3 linked regions of the Homo sapiens genome follow. Each later gene encodes a partner of the first gene's protein in a complex. Each region holds a gene or a part of one and is shown in the gene's direction. Other genes may lie near its edges.

Region 1 (6,055 bases):
TACTTCCCTTCATAGCTGTCCTTTTAAAATAGCCAGACTTGTTAGGTCCACATACATTGCATCTGATTCCTCCCTTCCTAGTGACCCTACAACCCACTCCAATCTGACTCCCCACAACCACTACCCCCACTTCTAATCTGCTTGAACTACTCCTGTCAGGGTCACTAGCACCTTTTGTAGTGCCAAATCCAGTAGGTGGGTCTGTGTTCTTACTGTGTCTCAGAAGCATTTGACGCAGTGGGCCTCTTTCTCCTTGAAGCGTTCTGTTCCCTTGGCTTCCATGCCACTGTGCACTCTGGCAGTTCTGCTTGGTGTTCTCTACTGCCTGTGCTGCCTCCCTCGGCTCCTTGATGTTGGACTTCCTTGACATCCTTTTCCTTTCTACCCCCTCCCTAGGTGGTCTCATCTCCTCCGTGGCTCTAAATCCCACTCATACATTGACAGCTCTCAAATATCTGTATACCTGGATCTCTCCTCTGACCCCAGATACCTATATCTAACTGCCTTTCTACCTGAAGGCTCTTGGTTATGTTAAACTTAACACACCCAAAACTGAACTTCTGGTTACTCCCCTCCAGCCCCTTCATCCTCAGCTTCCCCATTTCAGTAAATGGCACAACTACCCACCCAGTTGTTCAAACCACAAGCCTGGGAGACCCCCGTCTCCAATACAAATGCAGGTCCAGATAATTCTACTTCCAAACTGCATCCTTAATCACTCCATTTTCACCATCTCTGCTCCCACTAGCCTAGTCCAAGCTACCAGCAGCTCTCGAGCAACTGTGAGAGCCTCCTAATCAGCTGCCACTCCACTTCCACTCTGTCCCTTTCTACTTCTTTCCTTACACAGCAGCTGGAATGACCTTCCACATCTCTATCCTGCATAAAACTCTTCCCTGGCTTCTTATTACAGTAGGATTAAATTCCATCTCCTCATGTTGGCATTTCAAGACCCAGCTACTAAATTTTTGATCCCAGTTCTTTTCCATGATCTCTCTAATTGGTTACTTTTCATAACCACTTGTTCTTGGGTCATGGATTTCATATCTCTGTTACCTCTCTGAGTTCATTAACCATTTTTCTCTCAAAGTTTCTATTTCTTTTCTCTATTAACTCAATTTCCTCTGGTATTGGCTATTTTGTTTGTTGAGTTTGGTTCCTTTCTTTCATGGTATTGGCCTTCTTAAATTGTTGGGTGATCTTTAGTTGTGTTCATCTTCAAATTTTCTGTGAATGCTATGTCTTGTTTATTTTTTTATTTTATTTTATTTATTTATATATTTTTGTTTGAGACACAGTCTCATTCTTGTTGCCCAGGCTAGAGTACAGTGGTGCGAGCTTGGCTCACTGCAACCTCCATCTCCTGGGTTCAAGCAATTCTCCTGCCTCAGCCTCCCAAGTAGCTGGGATTACAGGTGCCTGCCACCATGCCCGGCTAATTTTTGTATTTTTAGTAGAGATGGGTTTCTCCATGTTCATCAGGCTGGTCTCGAACTCCTGACCTCAGGTGATTGACCCACCTTGGCCTCCCAAAGTGCTGGGATTACAGGCGTGAGCCACCGCACCCAGCCCTATGTCTGTTTATTAAAGACTGCCTCCAGTGACTGGATTGCCAACTGGTGGTGGGGAGGGAGGGAGGTGTCAGTAGTTTTTCTCCTGGGCATGGGTCTTCCCAGTTTTAAATGTTATCAGTCTTCTGGACACTGCCCTGTTTCATTGGCCTGTGTTCTCTAGCCTCACCCAGGGATGGTCTCCTCTGCTGGCTGCCTGGCACAGGCCATCTCTGGATTGTCTCACCTACCCTACTTGCTCTTGCAGCTCTTCTAACACTTCGTGATTAGTTTATTGTATTAAATGCCTTCTATCGAACTTGGTGTAGAGTCTCTTTGCTTGGCTGGATCCTGAATAACATTTCTGAAACAATTTTATCCGTCAACATGTTATTTTTGTATTTTGTTTGTTCAACTTATCAGATGTTCACTCATCTTGATCCTTGGTTGTAATTATGGAGCAACTGTGCTGTTTTTTCTTTAACTTTATTTTCACTAACTTATTTTCTAATATTTCTTTTGTTCTATCTTGTTTTGGTTTACTTTAATAACTCTGTAATACTTAATTTGACTGCTTGGCTCAGATACCTTTTAGTGTTCTTGTTTTCTAATAGGAACACTTTAAGGCTATGCATTTTCCTCTAGTACTATTTTGGCTGTATCTCATAAGTTTTGGGATATGGGCTTTTTATTGTTATTCATTTCCAAATAGTCTAATTTCAATTAAGTTTCCTCTTCAACACAGGTTAGTTAGAAGAAACTGGTTTTTGATTCATGAGTTTTTAATTTCCAATTAGAGAATTTGGCTTTTTTGATTCCTACTTTTGGGAATGTTTTTAAAATTATTTTCTTTTTTGTTCTTGTTGGAACCAGGATTTGAGCCAAAGGCTCTGTCTCCACAGCCCAGGTGCCTGACACTGACACTGAGTTAGGCCACACCTTACACAGGTCTCAGCTTGGCCACTAATGAGGGCTGGCCAACCATCTTCACCTCGCTGGGCCTCAGGATGATCAAGACAAGGGAATTGTACTAGTCTCTCAGATTCTTTCCAGCTGTAAAAAACAAACCAACAAAAAATCTAAAACCAAAATAACTGAGCTTCCAATCTAGGTGGGAAAGATCTAAGACTTGTACAAAGTCCTGCAAAGCCCAGAGGAGGGCGGTCACCCATCTGTTTGGAAGGATCAGGATTCGGGAAAGACTTCATGGAAGAGTTAGCATTTAAAATCAACTGCAGAGGATCATTCACTCATTCATTTAACAAATGTTTATTTAGCACCTATCTGCTATTTTCTAATTGCTGAAGATAGCAGCAAAATTACTATATATCAGGTTGGTGCAAAAGTATTGTGGTTTTTGCCATAACTGCAATGACTTTTGCAGCAACCTAATAAAACAGACAAAAATCCCTGCTCTGTGGAGGGTAGGCACATAGATATAGTCTAGCAATTTGACAGCTTACCTGACTCAGCCAAGCTGCGAGGCACCACCTATTTTCCACTGAACTTACCTTTCTTTTGCTCAGGCGCTTCCTCCCATCAACACAGTCGGCGGAGACAAGGTTGGCTAAAGGAGATCCGAAAGCTTCAGAAGAGCACACACCTCTTGATAAGGAAGCTGCCCTTCAGCCGCCTGGTAAGCTCCGGGAGCTTCCCACCAACCCCTATGCCACCCTCCTTTTTTTAAATTTTCCCAGGTATTAGGGACCCTACTGTCTCTTAACTAACTGGCCAAGGGACCTCTTTTGTAACCTGGTAGGGGATTCTTTTCTGAAAACATGAGCCCTCCAAGAGCACCTTGTAATTCTTTATGGAATTGATTTCTAACCTCTACTACCTTTTTAAAACTGTAGTTTTTGACTGTATAAATAGGAACTCTCTCGTTTGTCCACCTTAGATCCCTTTTCCTATCCTGGGAGATTGCCTCTCATCACCCAATTACTGGTGATTTCCCCATCACCAGTAAGAGATCCGCCAGTTCCTAAGCTCCCAGGAGTCAACACCTGCTCCTAATTGGGTCCTAAGATTAAGAGCCAGGAAAAAATAATGGAAAGGAAGATTCACTGGAACTCATGGAGAGCATCATTGTCCCTTGAATCTCTCTTCTGTTACTCCCTACTCCTACTCCTCCCCTTCCCCACTCCTTCACAGGCAAGAGAAATATGTGTTAAATTCACTCGTGGTGTGGACTTCAATTGGCAAGCCCAGGCCCTATTGGCCCTACAAGAGGTAAGAAGGCACCAAGGCACAATTGGGTGAGGGCTGAGTGGGAGAAAGAGGCAGCCTAGAATTCTCCAGTGCTGACTGGAGTGTCACATGCTGAATCTGACCTCTGGAAAAGAACAATGAGGTAACCTCTGAGGGTTTGGAGGCTGGATTCTGCGTGGTGATAGCAGAATTCCCTGGCAAAGTTCAGTCTCATTCTGTGAATAGTTTCCTACAATCCTTTGAGCCCTCAGAGATTAAGTTTAGCAGGTTTCCAAAAAAAAGCAGCCCGTGGCCCTTCATCTGTGTCCGTCTTTTTCTCTTTCTGTCTCCAGGCAGCAGAAGCATTTCTAGTTCATCTCTTTGAGGACGCCTATCTCCTCACCTTACATGCAGGCCGAGTTACTCTCTTCCCAAAGGATGTGCAACTGGCCCGGAGGATCCGGGGCCTTGAGGAGGGACTCGGCTGAGCTCCTGCACCCAGTGTTTCTGTCAGTCTTTCCTGCTCAGCCAGGGGGTAAGCTCATCCTCTTTCACAGGACTGGGGCTGGAATTTCTCAAGTAATTTCCTTTCTCCATCCATAGTCCCTTGTCACCTCGCCTTCCCTTTGTTCTCTAGTAAAGGTTGATCTAGTTTTGACTGCCTGGGACAATGTGGTTTGTGCCCTTTTGTGCAATGTTAGATAAAAGATATCTTTCTATTAAATAATAACCAGATGACCCTAATTTCTTTTGGTTGTTATTGTTGTTGTTTTATTTTTATAAGACAGGGTCTCTGTCATCAGTGTTGCCATCGTGGCTCACTGCAACTCCTGCCTTGGCCTCCCAAAGTGTTGAGATTACAAGAATCAGATGACCTCATTTTGATTAAGAGAAAACTTTCTAATAAACTTTCTAATAAAAGAGAACACTTTCTAATAAAAACTTTCTCTTTTTTGATTAAGAGAAAGTTTTCTTACTTTTGAAAATGGCTTGTTAGTAAGTGTGCTTCCTTAATTTCAGGGATGATACCGGGGACTCTCCAGAGCCATGACTAGATCCAATGGATTCTGCGATGCTGTCTGGACTTTGCTGTCTCTGAACAGTATGTGTGTGTTGCTTTAAATATTTTTCTTTTTTTTGAGAAGGAGAAGACTGCATGACTTTCCTCTGTAACAGAGGTAATATATGAGACAATCAACACCGTTCCAAAGGCCTGAAAATAATTTTCAGATAAAGAGACTCCAAGGTTGACTTTAGTTTGTGAGTTACTCATGTGACTATTTGAGGATTTTGAAAACATCAGATTTGCTGTGGTATGGGAGAAAAGGCTATGTACTTATTATTTTAGCTCTTTCTGTAATATTTACATTTTTTACCATATGTACATTTGTACTTTTATTTTACACATAAGGGAAAAAATAAGACCACTTTGAGCAGTTGCCTGGAAGGCTGGGCATTTCCATCATATAGACCTCTGCCCTTCAGAGTAGCCTCACCATTAGTGGCAGCATCATGTAACTGAGTGGACTGTGCTTGTCAACGGATGTGTAGCTTTTCAGAAACTTAATTGGGGATGAATAGAAAACCTGTAAGCTTTGATGTTCTGGTTACTTCTAGTAAATTCCTGTCAAAATCAATTCAGAAATTCTAACTTGGAGAATTTAACATTTTACTCTTGTAAATCATAGAAGATGTATCATAACAGTTCAGAATTTTAAAGTACATTTTCGATGCTTTTATGGGTATTTTTGTAGTTTCTTTGTAGAGAGATAATAAAAATCAAAATATTTAATGAAAATGGACTTACTGTTACAGCATAGAGATTATACTGTACTTTTTGTGTGTTAAAAATAAGTTCTTTATTTGTTTGCAAACAGCCACAATTTTTTTTTCTTTTTTTTTTTTTTGAGATGGAGTCTTTTTTTTTATTGATCATTCTTGGGTGTTTCTCGCAGAGGGGGATTTGGCAGGGTCATAGGACAATAGTGGAGGGAAGGTCAGCAGATAAACAAGTGAACAAAGGTCTCTGGTTTTCCGAGGCAGAGGACCCTGCGGCCTTCCGCAGTGTTTGTGTCCCTGGGTACTTGAGATTAGGGAGTGGTGATGACTCTTAATGAGCATGCTGCCTTCAAGCATCTGTTTAACAAAGCACATCTTGCACCGCCCTTAATCCATTTAACCCTGAGTGGACACAGCACATGTTTCAGAGAGCACAGGGTTGGGGGTAAGGTCACAGATCAACAGGATCCCAAGGCAGAAGAATTTTTCTTAGTACAGAACAAAATGAAAAGTTTCCCATGTCTACTTCTTTCTACACA
Region 2 (7,548 bases), about 210 Mb from region 1:
TGGGCACAGTGGCTGTAATCCCAGCACTTTGTGAGGCTGAGGTGGGTGGATTACTTGAGGTCAGGAGTTTGAGACCAGCCTGGCCAAACCCATCTCTACTAAAAATACAAAAAATTAGCTAGGTGTGGTGGCACGCACCAGTAATCTCAGCTACTCAGGAGGCTGAGGCAGGAGAATCACTTGAACCCAGGAGGCAGAGGTTGCAGTGAGCTGAGATCATGCCATTGTACTCCACCTGGGTCACAGGGCAAGACTGTCTCAAAAAAAAAAAAAAAGAATGAGTTTGGCTCCCTTTTGCTCTCTCTTGCCCTCTCTTGTTCTCCTACTTTACACCATGAGATGGCACAGCAAGAAGACCATCGCCAGAGGCCAATCACTCAGACCCTCACCACAGGCCAATCACTCAGTCTGGCTGGGACTCACCAGTCTTCAGATCTGTGAGAAATAAATTTCTGTTCATTATAAATTACAGGTTCATTACTCTCAGGTTTTATTATAGCAGCACAAAATGAACTAAGATAATTGGCCCCCTGTGTTTTCTAATTACATCAGTAATGCAAACTCATAATTGCACAGCAAACGCTCATTCTAGAAAATGCAGCTATGGAAAACTAATATTAAAAATAATTCATCACACCATCATCCAGAGACGGCCCTGGAAACATTCTGAGACGTATATACTCACACTTTTAAAACATGTATAATCATACTTTATATTATATAATATATACTTTTTAAATGCACACATAATACAGGTTTATAACCTTTTTGTATTAAACAGATCATATAGAATTTTGATATCAATAATTACACTTCTTCAAAATTCTTGCCAATAGAACACAAGTATCTATCATCATTTATTTTGCCATCCTTCTAGTATTGGACTTTATAAACTGCTTCACGAAAGATCCTCCAGCTAAATTCTTGCCAGCATCCTTAATTACTTCAGTTAGATGTGAGACTCATTCAATCAAACAACACATTTTGTGAGCTTTGGCTGACATCTCGTGGAAAGTCAGCTTGTTGCCTATTTCACAGCCTCTGTGTTTGCATCAGCTCTAGGGCAACAGAAAAAAGCAAACCCTTTTCTTAGCAGCCTAATAGGTGGGGTCTGATGTTTGCGATAATTTATCTTAGACTGACATTCTCACCGTTACACAGCAGTTTCTGTGTCAATGCTGGGACCAGCCAAAAGCTGCGCTTCTCCAACCACAGACTGGTGGTAACATTTCCACACCTTTCCAACAGAAACATATTTACATGACAACTCCATGCAGAATAAGTCTCCATCTCTTTTATTTGAAGCAAAATTCAGGCACATTTTATAAGAGCAGCCGTAATATAACTTTAAAGAGAACTATTTCCTAGGCATTTAAACAGCACTTGGAGGGTTGGAAATCCCAGCCCGGCCAGTAGAGGGCACTGTGCAGGGGCAGCCGGAGCCACCCGCCGTCATCTCTGGAAACCCTGTGAGATTCCAAGATGCTGCACCCAGAAACCTGCTGCTGGGGAAGGAGCTGACTTGTGATCCTTCCCTGTTATGTGGGAGTGGAAAGTGGTGGCAAAGGAGTTTGCTTAGCAGGTCTGGAGTAATATGGTTAGGCTGCCAAGGGTGGTAGGGTGAGGTGTTACAGAGAATGGCATTAAGGGAGGAGACCACTCCTCATATTGCCTTATGCTCAATTTCTGCCTCTAAAGAAAGAAGTAAAAACTAAAAGGCAGGAATGAAATCCACAAGCAGACAGCCTGGCGCCACACCCTGGGCCTGGTAGTTAAAGATCGACCCCTGACCTACTCGGTTATGTTATCTATAGATTACAGACATTGTATAGAAAAGCACTGTGAAAATCCCTGTCCCGTTCTGTTCCATTCTAATTACTGATGCATGCAGCCCCCAGTCACTTACCCCCTGCTTGCTCAATCGATCACGACCCTCTCACATGGACCTCCTTAGAGTTGTGAGCCCTTAAAAGGGACAGGAATTGCTCACTCGGGAGAGCTCGGTTGTTGGAGACGTGAGTCTTGCCGAAGCTCCCAGCTGAATAAAGCCCTTCCTTCTTTAACTCGGTGTCTGAGGGGTTTTGTCTGCGGCTTGTCCTGCTACAGCATCACATGAGAAGCATGATACAGGGTTCTTCTTTCTTTAGCTGGAGCACCACTTTAGACCATGGGATGGGGAAAGCCAGTCAGAGACGACTGGAAGACCACCAGGCCAGAACAATAAGGGTTAATGCATGGACTTTGGCTGGCTCAGAAGGAGTTTGGCTAAAGCAAGTATGTTTTGGACTTCAATTAAAGACTTGAACTTGAGATTGAGAAATCTTTCCACTGAAGCTGCCCCCAAACTCCTAGGACAGAGGCAGATGCTTGGATTGTCAGTGAAGCCAGCAAAGGAAATCTTGGAATGGTTTCCCAGGAATAGAGAATAAGCCCTGGGAGACGCCAGTTTTGAAAACTGGTACTATCGTGCTTGTTAGAGAGTCATGGTGAGGCAGGAGAATAGGGAACTGGGGTAGCAAAGGGTTGAGGCATAAGCAAAGGAACAGCAGATGCAGCCAGTTCGCATAAGCAAGAGAACAGCAGGTGCAGCCAGTTTTAAGCAAGATTGGGCAGGACATAGGCTACATCTTCACTCCCGTGATAACAAGAAAGAAGTTTCCACTTCAGCCCCTGAATGACTGCAGGCCAAGTTTCCACTTTAGGCTCTGATTGGTCACAGGCCAATCCTTCATAGGGTGTAACCAATTGGAGGCCTCTAAAGGGTACCCAGGGGTGTTGCCAAGTTCTTTTGGCTTTATAAAAACCCTAATTGAAGAGGCTCTTGAGCTGCGGGCTCCAGTCCGCTCGCACTCTGTGAATTGTCTTCAATGAATCTGTGCTTTCCTTACTCCGTTCTCCTGTTGCTTTGTTTTTCGTTGCTTCATTCCTTTGTTACTTTGTGTGTTTTGTTCAATTCTTTGTTCAACACACCAAGAACCTGGACAACTCTATCTGGTAACAATGGAAGAGTCAATCATCCAAAACTCAAAAAGAAAAAAGAAAATCTTATTCAAGGTCTCAAGTCTCTAAATGGGCCCAGTTAGATGTTTGAAAAGTAAATTATGTGTGGGAAGCACAGAGTCCAAGGAAGAGCATGTTAAGTTTCTGAACACTCCTAAGGAAGGAGGAGGAAGACACCTCGGTCTGTTTGTGAAAATTGGAAAAGGTACAAGTTAAATGTGTAGATCCTGCAACTGGAGAAGACTCAGAGAGGATGTTTATATAGGGAGGAAGGGAAGGAAAGAAACAGGATTGGTAGGTTACCCCATCCAATTCCGTGGAATTGAGAGCTCGGAAGATAAAGTGGCCCAGGGTTTTCTTCCATCAGACTGAAATGATACAGCCTTCCTGTTCCCACCTGGATCAGTCACTGGTGCTGGGCCACCCTGGGGCAGCAGGACCTTGGGTGAGGGAGTTCTCTGCAACTGAATCATCCCAGAATAGGCTGACAACTGAAGGCCCCTGCCAACTGCCCTCCTAGCAGCTGTGGCATCTTAAGGGGAATCAGGCCAGCACATCTCTGTGTCCAGCACAACGCAACACGTTTTGTGGACACACACACTACATGAGCCCTGAAGTTCTTACCCTCCACCCACTCCCACCTAAATTTCCGCAGGACATCATGATAGAATTGCCGTGCAGGCTGAAAGGAGGTGAAGAGCCCCCTCTAAGGGACCTCCTGGTGCTCAGTAATGCTTTTATTTTCAATCACATACTATGGTAATCATATCAGCACAAGCACACAAATGTGGTTAAGTGATGAAGCTGAATGAAACTTTCCTAAGATGTCAATCATAAATTCCATCAACCATACTAAAGACTGATTTATCTTGCTCTTCTCTCTGGAGAAAATATTACAAGATTAATATCAATGAAGAAGCAGAATATGCAATCAGAAATACATAGGGAAAAAGCTGGGTTAATAGAAGTATTTTCCTGGATTTTGTGATGTGTATCGCATTTGTCAGCATCTTTAAATGTGTCATTCGTTGAGACTTATTTTTTCCTTCTAGATGAATATTCGCTATCCTGCCTCCTTTTGGGTTGGTAATTTGGGGTTGTCTTTCTTAGGCCCCTGCCCTGGAAACTGCGCCGGGATCCCAGGCGGAGGGGTGAGGAAGGCGGACCTCGCCCAGCGGCGACACCCAGAGCAAGTCACGCAGAAATCTCCAGGCCGCACTTATCTCCGGTGCACAGCGCGGGAGATGACACGCATCCCACCGGATCTCGCACAGCACCGCTGATGAATAAGCACACAGCTGTTTGTACAACTACCACCGGCCGTGGCGGCCGGAGACCCTCCCTCCCTTCCGCCGGACATTGGGGCGTGGCTGGAAACTCGGGAGTGGATTGGCCGGAAGGTGGGACGCAAATTTGTTTGAAAGGCCCAATCAGTGCCCGGCTTCTCCGCTCTAGCCAATAGAAAACCGAGAGGAAGGCAGGGAGGGCGGAGTCTCCTATTTGAGTTTGTGGCGCGCGAGGCCCTGCAGTCCGGGTTGGCGCTTGGGTACTGGCTGGGTCCGATGCTGGGTACGCTGCGCGCCATGGAGGGCGAGGACGTGGAAGACGACCAGCTGCTGCAGAAGCTCAGGGCCAGTCGCCGCCGCTTCCAGAGGCGCATGCAGCGGCTGATAGAGAAGGTGCGGCCCCCGCCGGTCCGCCGGGAGGGGAGGCCTGCGTGTCGGAGTGAGGCTGGGAGGGGACGTAGGACGGGAAGGGAAGGGGCTCTGAGGACTCGGAGCGGGGGTTGGGGAAGCGGGACTGGGGCTTGGATGCGGAGAGAAGGTGGAGGCGGAGCTGGGGGCTCCGGAGAGGGAAAAAGGAGGCAGCGCCGAAGGCTTCGGTGCGGGGACGGGGAGGAAAGACTGGGGCCTCCGGAACGGGGAGTGGGGAAGCAGGCCTGGGGCTCGGGTGCAGAGAGGAGGGTTTGGTGGGGCTGGGGGTGCTCCTGAGTGGGACGAGAGAGGCGGAGTTGGGGGCTCCGCTGCAGAGACCGCGTTTGGGGCGCCCCAGGCCAGACTAACGGCCTCTCACGGGCTGGCGCCGCCTCCTCCCGGGTCTGGGGCCCCTCGTGGCCCTGGAACCTGACAGGAAGCCCCTTCCTCCTCCGCAGTACAACCAGCCCTTCGAGGACACCCCGGTGGTGCAAATGGCCACGCTGACCTACGAGACGCCACAGGGTAAGGGTCTTCCCCACCTTCTGAGTATTCGGGTGAAGAGTGTGAATGGAGTAGTTGAAATGCTGTCCCTGCTCTCTTAAGAAGTAAACATTGTTCACCTAACTAATAGGAACCAAAACATTGGTGCCCTTAAACCTGTAAATTACTTGAATTACTTATTAGAACAATTCCTGAAGAGACATAGGTGCCTCCTGGCTCACATGCCTCCGGCTTACCGGGTTGGCATCCCCGCTGGCCACCTCCCCACCATGGCAGCGTGGGGCAGTTGCTTAGCTGGACTGGTCTCAGTGTCTTCATCTGTGAAATGGGAAGGATGATGACAATAATGTCTCCTGGGCGTGGGTGTTGTAACAGTCACGTACAATCCCTATGAAACTGTGAACAGTACCCCGCCCCGCACTGTGAATACTCACATTGACTATTGTTTGCCCTGTTTAACTTGGAGTAGTAACTGTCTTCCTTGAGGCTCCAAGTACTTGAATAGGGAGGAGAAGGCATTCCGTTTAATAGTTAATGTAAACGGACTGAAATCTTGTGGATTCTTTTTGGTAAATAGCTGGTGACACTTTGCACTGGCTGGGGTCAATTCCTCCCATATAGCTTTATAACTAACTCAGTATCACTTAATGAAAACAAACCTCAGAGCAAGTTCTATGTTGCATTAAACGGACACAGAAGGTTCACAAGATCTGCTCCTTGAGTTAAAAGAAATCCTACCTTTCTGCCTTTATAGCCAATCCAGACACATCTTGGGTGAAAAGTTTACACAGGCAGAAACTAAAATATTCCAGTGGCAGGTCTGCTACCCTTTGGTCTCTGTATAACATGTAGATTGCCCTTAGAAAGCATTCATTCAGTATATGGGATGTAGAGATTGCCTGCGAAAAGTGCTTACTCCCTCTATATGGTATATAGATTGCCCTCTATATATTTTAAGGACAGTCGCTGTCATATGTTCCTTGTTTTCATTTAACTTTTTGGGCTAATGATGTAATTTGATGAGCCGTTTTCTAGTAGGTAGGAGAGATTTCCATGAATGACGAATTTGCCTTAAAAACCTGAAACTTTACAAAGAGGAACAATCGCAGGGTATCAGAAACCTGGCTTGGTTTTAATATTGTACCTTTTTTTTGCCTGTCACTTTGGCATCTGGTGAACACAGATTGAGCAGAAGTTCAGCGTTCAGGATTATGTAAATGGTCATTTTTGTTTCTTTTCTTCAGGATTGAGAATTTGGGGTGGAAGACTAATAAAGGAAAGAAACGAAGGAGAGATCCAGGTATTTAGTGTCAAATTTTATTGCCAAATAACCTTGCTGTGGAGGAGTATTCATATGAATAAAGGTGTGGGTATGCCCAACCTCTGAGCTTACGCAGAGGCCACCACGGGGCACTTTTTCTCATGATTATACTCTTTCTGTTTTTAAGGATTTAGAAGCATTTCTTCTGTAGCTTGTCAAGTGCAAGGAGTCACTGTGTAATATTTGGCCTTTTTCATCACCCTGTGTTTCCTGTGTCACAGGCTGAGGGGCTCTGATAATACATGTGCAGAGGCTGGGCCAGTTGGGTAACCCTCCCCAAGGTCACGTGCCAGCCCAGCGAGGCACTCACTTTGTTTGGGTCCTTACAGAAAATACCAAATCCAGTTCCTTCTAGGGAAGAAGAATGTCTCTCTTCCTGTTTTGAAAGGGGAGGAAGAGAGATGAGGAGAGGTGCAGCCTGGAGGATCACACATCTTTCCTTCTGCATTTTTCTACCTTCGGAAGACCCTGGCTTCCCTGCCTAGTTGATCCGAGGGTGTTGTCGCTCTGAGACCCGTTATTTTAGTGGAAGGTGCTGTTGGCCTTTCTACGGGGGCATCCAGGAGCCCTTTTGCCACAGTGGCTTTTGCCAGGTTATCTGGTATTCAGTTAATCACTGCCTCTCAGATGCCACATGGTTCCTCTCTGTGGTCACAGGTCAAGGAACCTGTATGAAAGAATGAAAAACATCAAGATCAATGTGACGATATTAACAGCAAATTTGAAATCAAATCTTCTTGATTAATTATTCTAGTCATAAAAATGTTAAAAGTACATACAACTACATAAATGAGCTGATTCCTCTCTGCAAAGATGGTCACTAATGCTATTTTAGTACAATGTGATTCCCTATAATACATATCTTTATAAATGCATTTTTTTCTCCCTCACTTTTCCGGTTAATACATCTGGCAAACTCTTCTCTTCATCAACTGTTGTATAATTATAAAATTATATAATTATTTAAAAAATCATGTTTTTTTAACTGCTCTCCTGTTGATAGGCAATTAGCTATTTGTGGCTTCCTTT
Region 3 (7,267 bases), on another chromosome or scaffold:
GTGCCTCTCCCAGCCCCTCCCGGCTGCCTCTGGGCCGCTTCAGGGTCATTGTGATCCGCCCCTCACCCCTGGGCATCTGAGTAGCAGTGGGCACTGAGGCCTGGGGACTAAGGGTGGGGCTATTGTGCCCTGGATGCCCTGGCCGCAGCCACCTGGGGCACTGGGACTCTGACCAGGGCAGCCAGGCCTACCCTTTCCAGATCTGGGAGGCTTAGGCTGGGTGGCTCTGGAAGTAGAACTTCCACCCCAAGACCAGGCAGTCAGAATACAATGGACCTAGAAATGAACAGACCCTGCGGGGCACGGTGTCTCACGCCTGTAATCCCAGCACTTTGGGAGGCCGAGGCGGGCGGATCACCTGAGGTCAGAAGTTCAATACCAGCCTGGCCAACATGGTGAAACCTCGTCTCTACAAAAAATACCAAAATTTGCCATGCATGGTGTTGTGCACCTATAATCCCAGCTACTTGGGAGGCTGAGACAGGAGAATCGCTTGACCCTGGGAGGCGGAGGTTGCAGTGAGCTGAGATCATGCCACTGCACTCCAGCCTGGGTGACAAAGCGAGACTCCATCTCAAAAATAATAATAATAATAATCCAAGGTCTGGGTGCTAGGTGTGCTTCTTGCTATTGAGATGTCATTTCTTTCAGGCAGTCTCAGCTGACAAAGAAATGTGTGTGTATACTATGAAACACACACATATCTATAAATATTTCTATAGGTAACCATCTGTACTTATATTAAGCTAAACATGAGCTCATGCTGACATCTCCAACTCTAATCCGTTACACAGATCATTTGAGACTCTGTCTCACAAAAAAAAAAGAGGCCAGGTTCCAGTGGCTCATACCTGTAATCCTAACACTTTGGGAGACCGAGGCAGGTGGATTGCCTGAGCTCAGGAGTTCGCAATCAGCCTGGGCCACATGGTGAAACCCCGTCTCTACTAAAATACAAAAAAATTAGCCGGGCGTGACAGCGTGTGCCTGTAGTCCCAGCTACTTGGGGGGCTGAGGTAGGAGAATTGCTTGAACCCGGGAGGCGGAGGTTGCAGTGAGCCGAGATCACGCCACTGCACTCCAGCCTGGGCAACAGAGTGAGACTCCATCTCCATAAAAAAAAAAAGAAAGAAAGAGCCGGGCACGGTGGCTCACGCCTGTAATCCCAGCACTTTGAGAGGACAAGGCGGGTGGATCATGAGGTCAGGAGATCGAGACCATCCTGGCTAACACGGTGAAACCCTGTCTCTACTAAAAATACAAAAAATTAGCTGGTTGTGGTGACGGGTACCTGTAATCCCAGCTACGCGGGAGGCTGAGGCAGGAGAATGGCGTGAACCCAGGAGGCGGAGCTTGCAGTGAGCGGAGATCGCGCCACTGCACTCCAGCCTGGGCGACAGAGCAAGATTCCATCTCAAAAAAAAAAAAAGAAGGAAGGAAGGAAGGAAGGAAGAAAAGAAATTAACAGACCCACTTTCAAGTCCATGGTCTGCTGTTTTGCTGTGTGATCCTGGAGAAGTGTCTTCTTTCTCAGGACTCCCTGGGCCTTATCTCTGAGTCTTGGCTGGGAGAGGGCCGAGAGGAAGCTCATAGTATTGTGAAGCTGGGGTGGGAGACAGAGGTCATTTACATGAGTATTTCACTGGCGTGGCATAGTTTCATAATTTGAAAATGAAGAAACGACTTTGTAATTCAAATAACAGAGTGACTCACTAGAGAACGCGTCGCCAAAGATATATTCTATTTTCTGTCAATGCTTCTCACCAGGGATGGAGGGACATACTTTCCTGGAGAGCTACAATATTGAGTGGGGGAGGGAGATATTTTTGTATTTATTTAAAGGGTATGTGTCTTTTTTAATGGCTGCGAAACACCAGATTAACTAGACGGTTTCTTTTTTTCTTTTCTTTTCTTTTTTTTTTTTTTGGAGACGGAGTCGCGATCTCAGCTCACTGCAAGCTCCGCATCCTGGGTTCACCCCATTCTCCTGCCTCAGCCTCCCGAGTAGCTGGGATTACAGGTGCCCACCACCACGCCCGGCTAATTTTTTTGTATTTTTAGTAGAGACGGGGTTTCACCGTGTTAGCCAGGATGGTCTCGATCTCCTGCCCTTGTGATCCACCTGCCTCGGCCTCCCAAAGTGCTGAGATTACAGGCGTGAGCCACTGCGCCTGGCCTAACTAGATGGTTTCTAAGGAGCCCTCCAGCCCTTGCACTCTGCAAATATTTATCAAGGAACTACTATGTGCTAGGCTTGGGAATTCAGAGATGCCAGAGGCTTTGAGGTCAGGGAGCCGGCCAGTCCTGGGAAGGCCTTGGAGCGTGGCTGTGGGGAAGGGGCTTGCTCTTCTGTTGACAGGAAATAAGACAGGGCTGGATTTTTAGGCATACAGAGAGCTTGGATCAGAGCTGCCCCCTGGCGGAGGATTCCGGACACCCCCACCGATTGAAATTGCCCAGGATCAATCCCTTTGCTTAAAGACACAGAAAATGAAGCTTGGGAGAGGGGCTCAGACCAGGGGTAGCAGTTGTGACCTAGAATAGTCTAGAGGGTATGCCAAATAAGATGCACATACACACATCCTGCGGACTCAATGCAGAAGGGGCTTTTTAGCATCCCCTTTCTACCGTAGCTTTCAACACATTTAGAGCAAACACACTTTAAGCACCTTCTGTGTGCGTCGCCCAGAGGAAGGAACACCAGGATAGTATTATTATTATTTTATTTTTGAGACAGAGTTTCGTTCTTGTCACCCAGGCTGGAAAGCAATGGCGCGATCTAGGCTCATTGCAACTTCTGCCTCCTAGGTTCAGGCTATTCTCCTGCCTCAGCCTCAGAGTAGCTGGGACTACAGGCATGCACCACCATCCCTGGCTAATTTTGTATTTTTAGTAGAGACGGGGTTTTGCCATGTTGGCCAGGCTGGTCTCAAATTCCTGACCTCAGGTGATCCGCCTGCCTTGGCCTCCCAAAATGCTGGGATTAGAGTCGTGCACCACCGTGCCCTGCCAACACAAGGATATTATTAATAGTATAGGAAAAATGAACTTAAGATGGATATTGTCATTATAACAGCTTCCATTTCCTGAGAACCCACTGCAGGTGCTGAGCTGAAGGTCTGACGTGCAATGTCCCACAAGTTTAACCCTCTCAGAGCATCAGAAGTTGAGTAATTATTACGTTGCTCAACTTCCTCTTCTGACAGGAGACTGAAGCTCGGAAATGTTAACAGGCTCTACCCACCTGCAAGCTCCCGTTTCCATCACCGCTGCCTCGGAGATAGCTCCAGAATTTCTTTGCATGGGAGGAGCCTAGGGAAGGGCCACGCTTTTGGAATGGAAACGTCATGGGCTTGTTTTGCTCATTTCAGTGGGAATCCCATGGCACTGCCGAGAGTATTTCTTTTTATTTTATTTATTTTGGGGGGTCGGTATTATTTTAAGATGCTAATGGAGATGGGTGGATTTGAGGACCAATGGCTTTTTTTTCCCTTTTTACTCAAAGCCCGCACAACACACTCGTTTTTAGAAGTCCAGCCTGCAGCCTCCAAACGAACTGTTGTACGTGCTGGGGACGGGGAGAGGGCGACGCTGCGGCTCTTTTCCGTTCGGGAGGTCCTTCTAGATTCCCAAAAGTCAATTTAGTCAAGTTTTGAGCTGTAACCTGTGTTGGGCGCGGTGGCTCACGCATGTAATCCCAGCAGTCTGGAAGGCCGAGGTGGAAGCCTCGCTTGAGGCCAGGAGTTCAAGATCAGCCTGAGCAACAGGGTGAGACCCCGTCTCTAATTTTTTTTTTTTAAAGAAGTCAAATTAGGCCAGGTGCGGTGGCTCACGCCTATAATCCCAACACTTCGGAAGGCAGAGGCGGGCGGATCACTTGAAGTCAGGAGTTCGAGACCAGCCTGGCCAACATGGTGAAAACCCGTCTCTACTAAAAATACAAAAATTAGCTGGGTGTGGTAGCTCACGCCTGTAGTCCCAGGTACTCTGGAGGCTGACGCAGGAGAATCGCTGGAACCTGGGAGGCAGAGGTTGCGGTGAGCCGAGATCGCGCCACTGCACTCCAGCCTGCTTGACAGAGCAAGATTCTATCTCAAAAAAAAAAAAAAAAAAATTTAAATTATTTTTCAAAAGAAGTTAAGTTAAATCCGGAGCCCGCGCGGGGGAGGGGCGAGCTGAGCGAGGGGGTGGAGCCAGCCATGGGCCCGCCCCTAAACGCCCGGAAGTGACGTTGGCGGACAAAGGCAGCGCGCGCCGCGAGCTGTCGCGTCTGGTCGTGGTCTGGCGGAGCTGCGGTTGGCTTGTGGCGTCTCCGCCGCCGCCGCCCTCCCTTCCTCTTCCCCATCTTCTTCTCTCGGTCCCGGGAGCCCCCGCCCGGAGTGAGTAGCGCGAGGCGGTGCGAAGGGTAGGCAGCCGCTGGGAGAGGGGAGGCTGCGACCCCTAACTGTTTCGGCGCCCTGAGGTCCCGGGTCCCCGGCTCGTCACGTGACCCGGCGCGTGCGCGCGGGCCGGCACAGGCCTCACGTGCGCGTCCCCAAGAGGTCTACGGGCCGGACCTGGGCAGGGACTACGGAGCAGTCCATGGGTCGGGGTACAGGAGGAAAGTCAAGGCACTCAAAGCCCAGGCAGGGCACTCCCCCACCCCGGTCCCCAGACCGCAGCAAATCCCTTTCTCTGAGCCTGTTTCCCTTCCGAGAAACAGGGATATGGAGAGCGCCCACTTGGAGGATGGATGGGAGGAATCGGTAAAATCGGTAAAATGCCCAGTTCAGAGCCTGGCACAGTTAAGTGCCCGCTGCACAGAAGTTGCTGTCGTATTTAACCTTGGGTGCCACCCGAGCGCCAGCCCGACACAGGTGCAGCTCAAAAAAGACAGCCCGAGAGCCCTTGCGGCCAAGGTCAGCCTGTCTGCAGGGAGGCTGCCATATCGAAAAGCCCAGACTTTGCTGCGCACCAACTGTGTGATCTCTCCCTCTGGACTTTGGTTTCTCCTCTGTACTATAAGTGATTGCCACAACTGGTGTCAGAGGCCCTGACAGCGGGGAGGGACAGTGTAACCGGTGGTTGTGGTGTGTAGAATGATTGCCCAGTGAGATGGGATGAGCCTCTGGGAGGAACCAGGGCTGGTATAAGGAGCCTGGATTCCCTCCTTAATTCTGTTCTCGGCTTCCTGTTTGTATGTTTAAAGACACGTCACTTCCTTTAGTGTGCTGGTTTTTCTCTATGTAAACTGAGGACTGTGCGGGGGTTGGAAGGATGCATGGAGCGTTTTGGTGGAGGCCGGAAGCCCTAGGATCACAAGGATGGCATCTAAAAAATCTCGGTGGGGGTTCTGTGCTTATAGGCAGAGGAAGCTCACTCCCCACTCTGGCTGATTTGCAGAGCTGTTTGAGTCTGCTGGCTTGGCCGCCCAGCATACCAGTAACAGTCCCCTAGGTGTGTCCAATACAGCTTCTGTGGCATTCTAAGGCAGTTTTCCCATTTGATCCTCATAGTGGGCAGAGTTGACAAGAATCTCATTTGACAGAGATTTCTAAGCTCAAGAGAGAATATGTGCCCGGCACTGTGCAAAGCACTTTAAGCTTTTCATATGCACTTTTAATCACAGCCTTTCTGTAAAGTCGGTATTACTGTTCCATTTTATAGGTGAACTGAGGAATGGTGAGGTTTAATGTCTTGTCTGTGCTTACACAGCAGGTGTGCAGAGCCAAGATTCAGATCTGGTTCATCTGGCTCCATCAGAGCCTTTGTTAGTTTTTAAATGTATCCCCTGTTTTGTCTTCTTCCCTCCCTTTCTCACTTCCTTCTTTTTCTTAGAGCACTCTGCCGTTTGCATGTGGCCTGCTGCTGTCCACAAAGATCCAGGGAGGATGGACTCTGTCCACTAGGCTGCTAGAGGGTGGAGGTAACTTTTAGGCAGGCTTTTCCGTAGAGACTTACGTGAGGAGGATGAGATGACTGCAAAAGTCTGCCGGTGACAGTTTCAGCACTGTTTTCTTCCATGGGTCGTGGGAGAAGAGATGCAGTACCTTGGGTCTGAACACCTTGGCGGGGAGGAGGAGGCAGCAGCCAGGTGACTGTGAAGGATGTAGGATCACATTTACTGGCTGAGCAGCCATTTACCAGGCATGAGGGGTTTGTCTTCCTCTCTGAGCTAGCCTAGAGTGCACACAAAGCCCGTGTGCTCCTGGCCCCCTCCCAGGCCCTTCAGCCACATACGGCATCTGTGCTCTGGAGCAGAGTGTAGCAGGACCACCTGCTGTTGGCTGACTGACCTTGCTGTTCCCTCAGACTCTTAGGGACCTCCTCCTGCCCCACTCCAATCTGGACACCACGAGGCAAAATGTAGCCAGGACCCCAGGAATCCCGTTTATTAATGAATCAGCTGTTAGGGCAGATGTCAAAGTCAGGCTTGCTATTTCCCGGCCAGGATGTGCCTCCCCTGGCTTGTTCCCAGAATTTGCGTGTAAGTGGAATTCTTGTAAATTAGATTATTCAGGGGACCCTGACATTTAAAGGAATCATGTTACAAGGCTTTTGGTAAAGCACAGAATTATATTGTCGGTAGCAGCCTTCAGGCCTTCAGTATTTACCAGTTCTGAATGGTTGGACTTTTGTCTGTAGGATTTTCTTAGAGTGGAAAATGGCTATAGCTGCACAAAGCCCATTCTTGCATTATTTGGCAACCAGTTAGTCAATGCCCACCTGGTATCAGGCACTGGGCTAATGGTGTACAAGGTAATGTCTCTACCCCCAGGAAGCTGCATGCTGGGAGAGGAGACGGATGGAGTCCAGCCTGGTATGTGTTTGCCCCCAGATTTATTCTGTTCATTTGATCAGAGGTGAACTTTCTGTTGAATATTTGTGTTTCATGGGATGCAAGAGAAGCATGGTGATAAATCTCAAATGTTGCCACTGCTCTCAGGAGCTCCCCGGCCAGGCGAGAGAGAGAACTGAATACAAAACCTTCAGTTTGCCAAGTTGGGCGGTGAGAGGGAGACAGGCTTGCTCTCGCCATGGTCCAGTCTGAATGGGAGTTGTGCCAGCATGGTGTGGAAGAGTAGTAGTTCGTTTTTTAACCTTTGTCTTTAATTTTCCCAGCCACCAAGTGTTTTTTGTTTTTTGAGACAGGGTCTCGCTCTGTTGTCCAGGCTGGACTCAAACTCCTGGGCTCAAGCAGTCTTCCCACCTCAGCCTCCCAAAGGGCTCAGGTTATAGGTTATAGGTTATAGAGTAGTTTTGAATGCCGTCCTCTCTTGAGTGACTG

What was found. Proteins that work in one complex are often made in the same cells at the same time.
Region 2: the proteins of CENPA (region 1) and HJURP are in contact, whole or in part, in a crystal structure (PDB 3R45), measured with the Homo sapiens proteins. Residues at the interface, in NP_001800.1 of Homo sapiens: Lys64 (codon at 3,166), Leu65 (codon at 3,169), Ser68 (codon at 3,178), Arg69 (codon at 3,181), Arg72 (codon at 3,705), Asp83 (codon at 3,738), Phe84 (codon at 3,741), Asn85 (codon at 3,744), Trp86 (codon at 3,747), Gln87 (codon at 3,750), Ala88 (codon at 3,753), Gln89 (codon at 3,756), Leu91 (codon at 3,762), Leu92 (codon at 3,765), Ala93 (codon at 3,768), Glu96 (codon at 3,777), Ala97 (codon at 4,091), Ala100 (codon at 4,100), Phe101 (codon at 4,103), His104 (codon at 4,112), Glu107 (codon at 4,121), Asp108 (codon at 4,124), Leu111 (codon at 4,133), Leu112 (codon at 4,136), Leu114 (codon at 4,142), His115 (codon at 4,145), Ile132 (codon at 4,196), Glu136 (codon at 4,208); in NP_060880.3 of Homo sapiens: Glu14 (codon at 4,602), Asp15 (codon at 4,605), Leu18 (codon at 4,614), Lys21 (codon at 4,623), Leu22 (codon at 4,626), Ser25 (codon at 4,635), Arg26 (codon at 4,638), Arg28 (codon at 4,644), Phe29 (codon at 4,647), Arg32 (codon at 4,656), Met33 (codon at 4,659), Leu36 (codon at 4,668), Lys39 (codon at 4,677), Tyr40 (codon at 5,153), Pro43 (codon at 5,162), Phe44 (codon at 5,165), Thr47 (codon at 5,174), Pro48 (codon at 5,177), Val49 (codon at 5,180), Val50 (codon at 5,183), Gln51 (codon at 5,186), Met52 (codon at 5,189), Ala53 (codon at 5,192), Thr54 (codon at 5,195), Leu55 (codon at 5,198), Ile65 (codon at 6,451), Trp66 (codon at 6,454), Gly67 (codon at 6,457).
Region 3: the proteins of CENPA (region 1) and NTMT1 are in contact, whole or in part, in a crystal structure (PDB 5CVD), measured with the Homo sapiens proteins. Residues at the interface, in NP_001800.1 of Homo sapiens: Gly2, Pro3, Arg4, Arg5, Arg6, Ser7; in NP_001273725.1 of Homo sapiens: Tyr19, Trp20, Met30, Leu31, Gly32, Tyr34, Ile37, Trp136, Asn168, Ile175, Asp177, Asp180, Asp212, Glu213, Ile214, Tyr215.

What each region holds. Positions count from the first base shown.
Region 1 is NC_000002.12:26,789,055-26,795,109, forward strand, and holds the end of CENPA (histone H3-like centromeric protein A), read left to right. Parts: intron 1-3,076; coding exon 3,077-3,186; intron 3,187-3,701; coding exon 3,702-3,779; intron 3,780-4,090; coding exon 4,091-4,225; 3' UTR 4,226-4,272; intron 4,273-4,757; 3' UTR 4,758-5,535; downstream 5,536-6,055. UniProt on the Homo sapiens protein: Histone H3-like nucleosomal protein that is specifically found in centromeric nucleosomes. Replaces conventional H3 in the nucleosome core of centromeric chromatin that serves as an assembly site for the inner kinetochore.
Region 2 is NC_000002.12:233,851,515-233,859,062, reverse strand, and holds the start of HJURP (Holliday junction recognition protein), read left to right. Parts: upstream 1-4,527; 5' UTR 4,528-4,562; coding exon 4,563-4,679; intron 4,680-5,152; coding exon 5,153-5,219; intron 5,220-6,441; exon of another isoform or gene 6,442-6,442; coding exon 6,443-6,498; exon of another isoform or gene 6,499-7,548. UniProt on the Homo sapiens protein: Centromeric protein that plays a central role in the incorporation and maintenance of histone H3-like variant CENPA at centromeres.
Region 3 is NC_000009.12:129,621,917-129,629,183, forward strand, and holds the start of NTMT1 (N-terminal Xaa-Pro-Lys N-methyltransferase 1), read left to right. Parts: upstream 1-4,246; 5' UTR 4,247-4,379; exon of another isoform or gene 4,380-6,799; intron 6,800-7,267. UniProt on the Homo sapiens protein: Distributive alpha-N-methyltransferase that methylates the N-terminus of target proteins containing the N-terminal motif [Ala/Gly/Pro/Ser]-Pro-Lys when the initiator Met is cleaved.